Linked DNA regions of Homo sapiens. The protein of the gene in region 1 purifies or fractionates together with the protein of each later gene. This does not show direct contact. Each region holds a gene or a part of one and is shown in the gene's direction. Other genes may lie near its edges.

Evidence for each region. The genes of interacting proteins can lie anywhere in the genome.
Region 2: the proteins of ANPEP (region 1) and COCH purify together in Homo sapiens (affinity purification with mass spectrometry, with the first as the bait; one large-scale study listed by BioGRID). This does not show direct contact.

What each region holds. Positions count from the first base shown.
Region 1 is NC_000015.10:89,808,353-89,811,852, reverse strand, and holds part of ANPEP (aminopeptidase N precursor), read left to right. Parts: intron 1-3,500. UniProt on the Homo sapiens protein: Broad specificity aminopeptidase which plays a role in the final digestion of peptides generated from hydrolysis of proteins by gastric and pancreatic proteases.
Region 2 is NC_000014.9:30,877,559-30,881,058, forward strand, and holds part of COCH (cochlin isoform b precursor), read left to right. Parts: intron 1-13; coding exon 14-170; intron 171-1,252; coding exon 1,253-1,386; intron 1,387-1,864; coding exon 1,865-1,927; intron 1,928-2,893; coding exon 2,894-2,938; intron 2,939-3,028; coding exon 3,029-3,176; intron 3,177-3,500. UniProt on the Homo sapiens protein: Plays a role in the control of cell shape and motility in the trabecular meshwork.

The sequences.
Region 1 (3,500 bases):
TCAAGAAATTCACAGCGAAAGGAACACATGCATTTTGCTCACTGGCAGAAAGAGCCTGCACCAAAGACAACCCGCAGGGCCAGCAACCCCAACATCATACAGGGTGGAGCAGCAGTTCCCAAAGCGGGTGCAACTGGACAGGATCCTTTTAGGAGCTACCTAGAGGAACAATTTTTTCTTTTTTTCTTTTTTTTTTTTTTTTTACTTGAGATGGAGTCTCACTCTGTCGCCCAGGCTGGAGTGCAGTGGCACGATTTCGGCCCACTGCAACCTCCGCCTCCCGGGTTCATGCCATTCTCCTGCCTCAGCCTCCCGAGTAGTTGGGATTACAGGCGCCCACCACCACGCCCGGCTAATTTTTTGTATTTTTAGTAGAGATGAGGTTTCACCGTGTTAGCCAGGATGGTCTCGATCTGCTGACCTCGTGATCCGTCCGCCTCAGCCTCCCGAAGTGCAGGGATTACAAGCATGAGCCAACACGCCCGGCCCAGGAACAATTTTTAAACCAATAGTCATGAATTGTTAATATAAATTAACACATCCAACCATGATTTTATCGCTCAGAAGGAGGCTAAGAAAGTGAATTGATTTAAAGAAAAATACGAAGTAAATAATCACAAAGGTGGATCACGAAGGTGGTTTGTGCACAGCCCAGAAGCCCAGGAAGGAATGTCGGGTAGAGAGGGTGGAACCTGTCCCGAGGATCAAGGCTCTGAAGTTCCATCCTTAACTGCTGTCTCTCATTCTTGCACTGATGCCCCATTCCACAAGCACGTGTTGCCCTCCCACTGCACGCCAGGTGTAGAGGATACGGCACACCTGGTGCTACCCTCATGGAGGCACTTGGAGGGCTGCCTGGGGGCAGCACCACTGACTTGTGTCTCCAGGGCAAGTGGGGAGTGGATGAAGCAAAGGCAGGAAGCTTTCCAGGCCCAAGGATCAGCTTGTGTGTAGGGAGGAAGGGAGAATGAAGCGGGGAAAAGCAGGTTGGATTTGAACTGAAAGAGGCCACTGGGGTGGAGCACAGAAGTGACAGGGGAGAGCGTTTGAGATGAGGCCAGAGAATCACTGGGGGCTGGATCACACAGGCCCTGTAGGTCACGGCAAGGACTGTGGGTGTTGTCATTCATTTGGCCAACATGTATTGGGCTCCTGCCTTGTGCTGGGCATGGAGGGGCATACGATGCCACCAGGCCTTCCTTTGAGGTGCTTGGGTGCAGCAGCAGGCTTTTGAACACACTGGTAGCATTTTTCTTTTTCTTTTTTTTTTTTCTTTTTTGAAACAGAGTCTCGTTCTGTTGTCGTCCAGACTGGAGTGTAGTGGCACGATCTCCGCCCACTGCAACCTCCACCTCTTGGGTTCGAGCGATTCTTCCGCCTCAGCCCCCCAAGTAGCTGGGACTACAGGCGTGCGCCACCACGTCCAGCTAATTTTGTATTTTTATTTATTTATTTATTTATTTATTTATTTTTTGAGACAGAGTCTTACACCGTCCCCCAGGCTGGAGTACAGTGGCACAATCTCGGCTCACTGCAACCTCTGCCTCCCGAGTTCAAGCGATTCTCCTGCCTCAGCCTCCTGAGTAGCTGGGATTACGGGCACCTGCTACCATGCCCAGCTAATTTTTTGTATTTTTATTAGAGACGAGGTTTCACCATGTTGGCCAGGCTGGTCTCCAACTCCTGACCTCGTGATCTGCCCACCTCAGCCTCCTAAAGTGCTGGGATTACAGGCATGAGCCACCGCGCTCAGCCTCAGTGGCATTTTCCTAAGTGCTGTGATAGAGGTGGGAACTGGAGACTGGGGAAGCGCAGAGGGGAGTGGGGGCTGGTGTGCATGATAAGGCAGTGACATTGAGTTGGGTTTTGAAGGATGAGTAGGAGTTTGACAAGAGGGAGAGGAAAGGCATTCCTGGCAGTGGGAACAGAATGAGCAAAGTCACAGAGGTATGAAAAAGCCCCGATGATCTGGGGAGACGCTGGCAGCTGGAGCCACAGTGGGCAGTAGAAAGAGGACAGGCCAGAGGGTCAAGTTCACAGAAGGTATTAAGGCCCAAGCCAGAGTTAAGGTTTCACTCTGCAGGTTGGGCACCAGGTTTGAATGGGAGAGTCCCACCCACACTCTTAGGCAGAGCCCTCTGCTGACGTGTGCTGGTGGGGTTGGGTGACAGGGGAGGGTAGCATAGCCGCCACTGCCCGATGGGGTGTGGAGGTGGCCAGGCCTGGGCTGTGGCAGGGGACTGGACGAGGGAAGCCCTTTTGTGTGTTCCTGAAGGTGGGGGCTGCAGAGCATGGCTGTCTCTGTGCCCCCAGCCTGGGTTGGCCTGGTGCCTAGAGCAGGGACCTCTCATTATAGAGCCAACTTTGGGCTACCTGCTGCACCAACTTGGAAGACCAGAGGCCTTGTCCAGAAGAGTAAAGATTCCAGCCAGCTGGGCCTATGGTCTGAATCCAAAGCAAACAGGAAGAGAGTATGGTGGGCCAGGCAGGGCCTCTTTCTTTGTTTAGAAAAGGGATTAGTCCAGGCCGACTTGTGGGTCTTTCTGCTGCAAAGGTGGGAGGGGGCTGCAGGCTCCGTCAGGGACATATCAAAAGGCTTTTCAGGGGCAGGCATGGTGCCCCAGTGCCAGCCTGGGGGGTGCTGTAAAGATGGGCTCCCTTGGCGAATTCCATCCACCCTGATGGGAGGAGCCTGGCAGCATGTGCTGGGAGCCACTGCTCCTTCTCTCACCACGCCCAAGCTGGAGCCCTTCCTGACACCTGATTTCGCACGATTGCCCCTTGGGGTCATCACCCAAGCCTAATGGGGTGTCTGCTAGTCACTGCAGTGGGAGGTCCATCCTGGTCCCAGACCAAGGCCCCTTGGGGAAATGCCAAAGGCTCAGAACACCCTCAGTCTCAAAGGTGGGCACCCAGGACTCCCCTAAAGACCCTGGGCTCAGACTCGGCCTCCATACACCAGACGAGAGGCGGCAGGTATTTGTGTTTTGCTTATGCCTGATTGAACTAATCCACGTGTCCCTTCAGTTCACACATTGCATTTATTTAAGAAGCCTTCCTGCAAGCTCAGGGGTGGCAGGGGTGGCAGGGGTGGCAGACGAGTGAGGCCCTCAGGGAGCAGAGCTGAGGGAGCAGGAAGGCATGTGGGGCCCTGACATGCTGGGGCCTGGCACGAGTCCGGCCTGCCTGCCATGCTTGGAGAAGGGCTCAGAAGAGGCAGGCACTTCTTCTGGGGGCAGGTGTGGGGTGGGGACAAGCTGGGAGACAGAGGCCAGAAAGACTTTGGTAAGGAGTTTCTCCTGGACTGACTCATTCATTCATTTACTCAATCCTTCGTGCATGTGCGCATCCACTCAACATCTCAGTAATGAGGACCTACTGTGTGCCAGGCACTGTGCTAAGTGCTGGTGAGGCCCTGCTGTCATGGGGCCTGCAGTCCAGGACTCAAGTTATCACCACACAGATCAAAGGGAAAACCACGCTGAGTTCTGGGGCTTTGC
Region 2 (3,500 bases), on another chromosome or scaffold:
CCTTTTTCTTCAGCTCCCATTGCTATCACATGTTTTACCAGAGGCTTGGACATCAGGAAAGAGAAAGCAGATGTCCTCTGCCCAGGGGGCTGCCCTCTTGAGGAATTCTCTGTGTATGGGAACATAGTATATGCTTCTGTATCGAGCATATGTGGGGCTGCTGTCCACAGGTAAGCCCAAACACACCAGGGTGGGAGAGAAATGCAGACGTGATTATTTCCTTTCCTGCTTTACCCATCTGGATCCCTTTCCTCCCTGCATTCTTTCTTTTGTTGCCATTGTGGCCACAGAAAATGGATATATTTTCACGGTTCTCCTGGATATACTTGAAACACCAAATACACATGGAAAGCTTTCTGACAAAAGGCAAATAGCATTACCTCTTGATGGCTAGATTGCTATGATTCCAAAACATTCCTAATCATGTGATATATTACTGAGTTATTACTATGTGCCACCTATTGTTTTAACTTCCACCACAACTCTACAAGGTAGGTAGAATTTTACTCCAGTTACAGATGAAGAAACTGAACTCAGAGAGTTGTCAAGTATCTTGCCCAAGGTGACTATTGTTAGCAAGTGCCATGCTATCCTGTAGTAGAATAGCCAGTATAATACTTCTAAAAAAATTCAGTCCAAAGGCATGTAGCTAAAGTGAGTATCTTAGGAAAATTGTTTGGTGCTCTGAATTTCTAAGTTGTGGGTAATGGGATATTACAAATGTGTTCTTATCAACACTTAAGAAGTTCAACAGCACAAAACCATTTTTTTCCAGGCAAATTTTGTTCTTGTGTAAGCAAGTTTTTAAAAGGCTAGCAGCAGCTGGGAGTGGTGGCTCACACCTGTAATCCCACCACTTTGGGAGGCTGAGGCGGATGGACCACTTGAGGTCAGGAGTTCGAGACCTAGCCAACATGGTGAAACCCTGTCTCTACTAAAAATACAAAAATTAGCCAGGTATGGTGGTGCATGCCTGTAATCCCAGCTACTTGGGAGGCTGAGGCAGGAGAATCACTTGAATCCTGGAGGTGGAGGTTGCAGTGAGCCGAGATCGCGCCACTGCACTCCATCCTGGGCTACAGAGCGAGACGCCATCAAATAAATAAATAAATAAAGCAGAATCTTTAGATGACTTCCCTGATGAGCTATTTTCTTGATTAATCAAAGCAATAGATACAACATGGCACTATAAGTCAGTGGGATGCCCTGAAAAAGTGTGGATAGCATCTCAGCTGCTATTCTTGTGTTACAGGGGAGTAATCAGCAACTCAGGGGGACCTGTACGAGTCTATAGCCTACCTGGTCGAGAAAACTATTCCTCAGTAGATGCCAATGGCATCCAGTCTCAAATGCTTTCTAGATGGTCTGCTTCTTTCACAGTAACTAGTAGGTATAATTATTGTTCTCATTCTGTAATATTCTCCCACCCCCCAAACGTTTTCTGCTTTTTTTAGCTCAGCCTCTTTAACCTTGATGGAAAAACCTGTGATCAAGACTAAAGCTGACCTATAGAGGTAAACTGTAGGTTAGACTGAGGGGTCAAGTACCCACTGAAGCCAAATTTGGGTGAATAGAAGACAATCTTACTGACAGATGATGGCAATAGAAACTTGAATTATTTGCAGTCAGAATGCCCGGACACTTACCAAGGAACTGAAAAACTACTAAATACATTTTTGATGATCCTTTGAAGATATAATGGATAAGCATTTTGGTTCTCTGAAACTAGCATGCAGCAGGATGTTTGTAACTACAATCACCATTACCCTATTACATTTGTCATTGTAGAGAGCTCTAAATTAGATTCATAATACTTTGGTAAAGAAGGAAAAGGAAAAAAATAAGCTTATTTTTATTTTAACAGAAGGCAAAAGTAGTACACAGGAGGCCACAGGACAAGCAGTGTCCACAGCACATCCACCAACAGGTATGAACTATGAAACCTATCTCCTAGTTGCCCGGCACAGCATTTGGAAGTTATGAATAAACGTGTTGTTGGTAGAAGCTTTTCTTAAAGAAATTTGATATTAAAGAGAAACAAAGCAAATACCTTAAGTTTACTGGTATATTACATATGGAAACATTCATTATGTGTATATTTTAAAGACAGGGTCTCACTCTGTTGCTCAGGCTGGAGTACAGTGGTGCAATCATAGCTCACTGCAGCCTTAACCTCCTAGGCTCAAGCAATCTTCTCACCTTGGCCTCCTGAGTAGGTGGTACTACAGGCACATGCCACCACACCCAGCCAATTTTTTTGATTTTTAATTTTTTTTATTTTTATTTTTTTAGACAGGTCTAGCTATGATGCCCAGGCTGGTTTTGAACTCCTGACCTCAGGCAGTCCTCCCACTTCAGCCTCCCAAAGTTCAGGGATTACAGGCATGAGCCACTGCACCCAGCCTAATAATTCTCTAAAAGTCCTATTTTCTCCCAGATTTGATAAACCACGCCTAAGAACTGGTCAAAGTACCATGAACTTCTAGTTCCATTTGCTTCATTAAATTCCTTTAATTACTGCACTGTCATGTGACTAAAAGGAATGTGTGTCTATTGTAAGAAATAGCCAGGGATCCCCTTTTGTATGACGATGGCAGTTTTAAAGTCAAAGATATTAAGAACATTAGGATTTAATGTTGAGTTCCTGCCTCACCTGTGGGTTTGGGGTATTAAAGTCCTGGATTAGGGCATATCAAATATGTAGGCCTACATACTGATTTGTTTATTTGTTGGGTCATTGCTTTCCCTAGTCCAGAAAATCCTGAGGAAATTAATTTTTTTAAAAAAGTCCTTTCAAGAATGGCACTCTGTTGTTATGAGCTTCTCCCCATGTGGGTTTCTTGCTATGTAACTGTCTTCCTTTTGTTAATGCCAAGTGCATCTTTTATTTCAGGTAAACGACTAAAGAAAACACCCGAGAAGAAAACTGGCAATAAAGGTAAGAATCAAGATCTCCATTTGGGAAGGTAGCATTTTCCCTCCCTCCTCTTGAGACTGCTAATGAGGGGACTGGTTTGGTTGTTCGCAGATTGTAAAGCAGACATTGCATTTCTGATTGATGGAAGCTTTAATATTGGGCAGCGCCGATTTAATTTACAGAAGAATTTTGTTGGAAAAGTGGCTCTAATGTTGGGAATTGGAACAGAAGGACCACATGTGGGCCTTGTTCAAGCCAGGTACCAACCTTGTTAAAATGGGAGATTTAAAAAAAAAATTATTTTGTAATTGACACATAATAATTATATATACTTATGGGGTACATAGTGATGTTTTCATACATACAATGTATAGTGGTCAAATCAGAGTAATTAGCATATCCATCACCTCAAACATTGATCATTTCTTTGTGTTGGATACATTCAAAATCAAATGAGGCCGGGTGCAGTGGCTCACGCCTGTAATTCCAGCACTTTGGAGGCCAAGTGGGTGTGTGGATCACCTGAGGTCAGGAGTTCAAAACCAGTCTGGCCAACATGTGAAACACCGTCTCTACTAAAAAT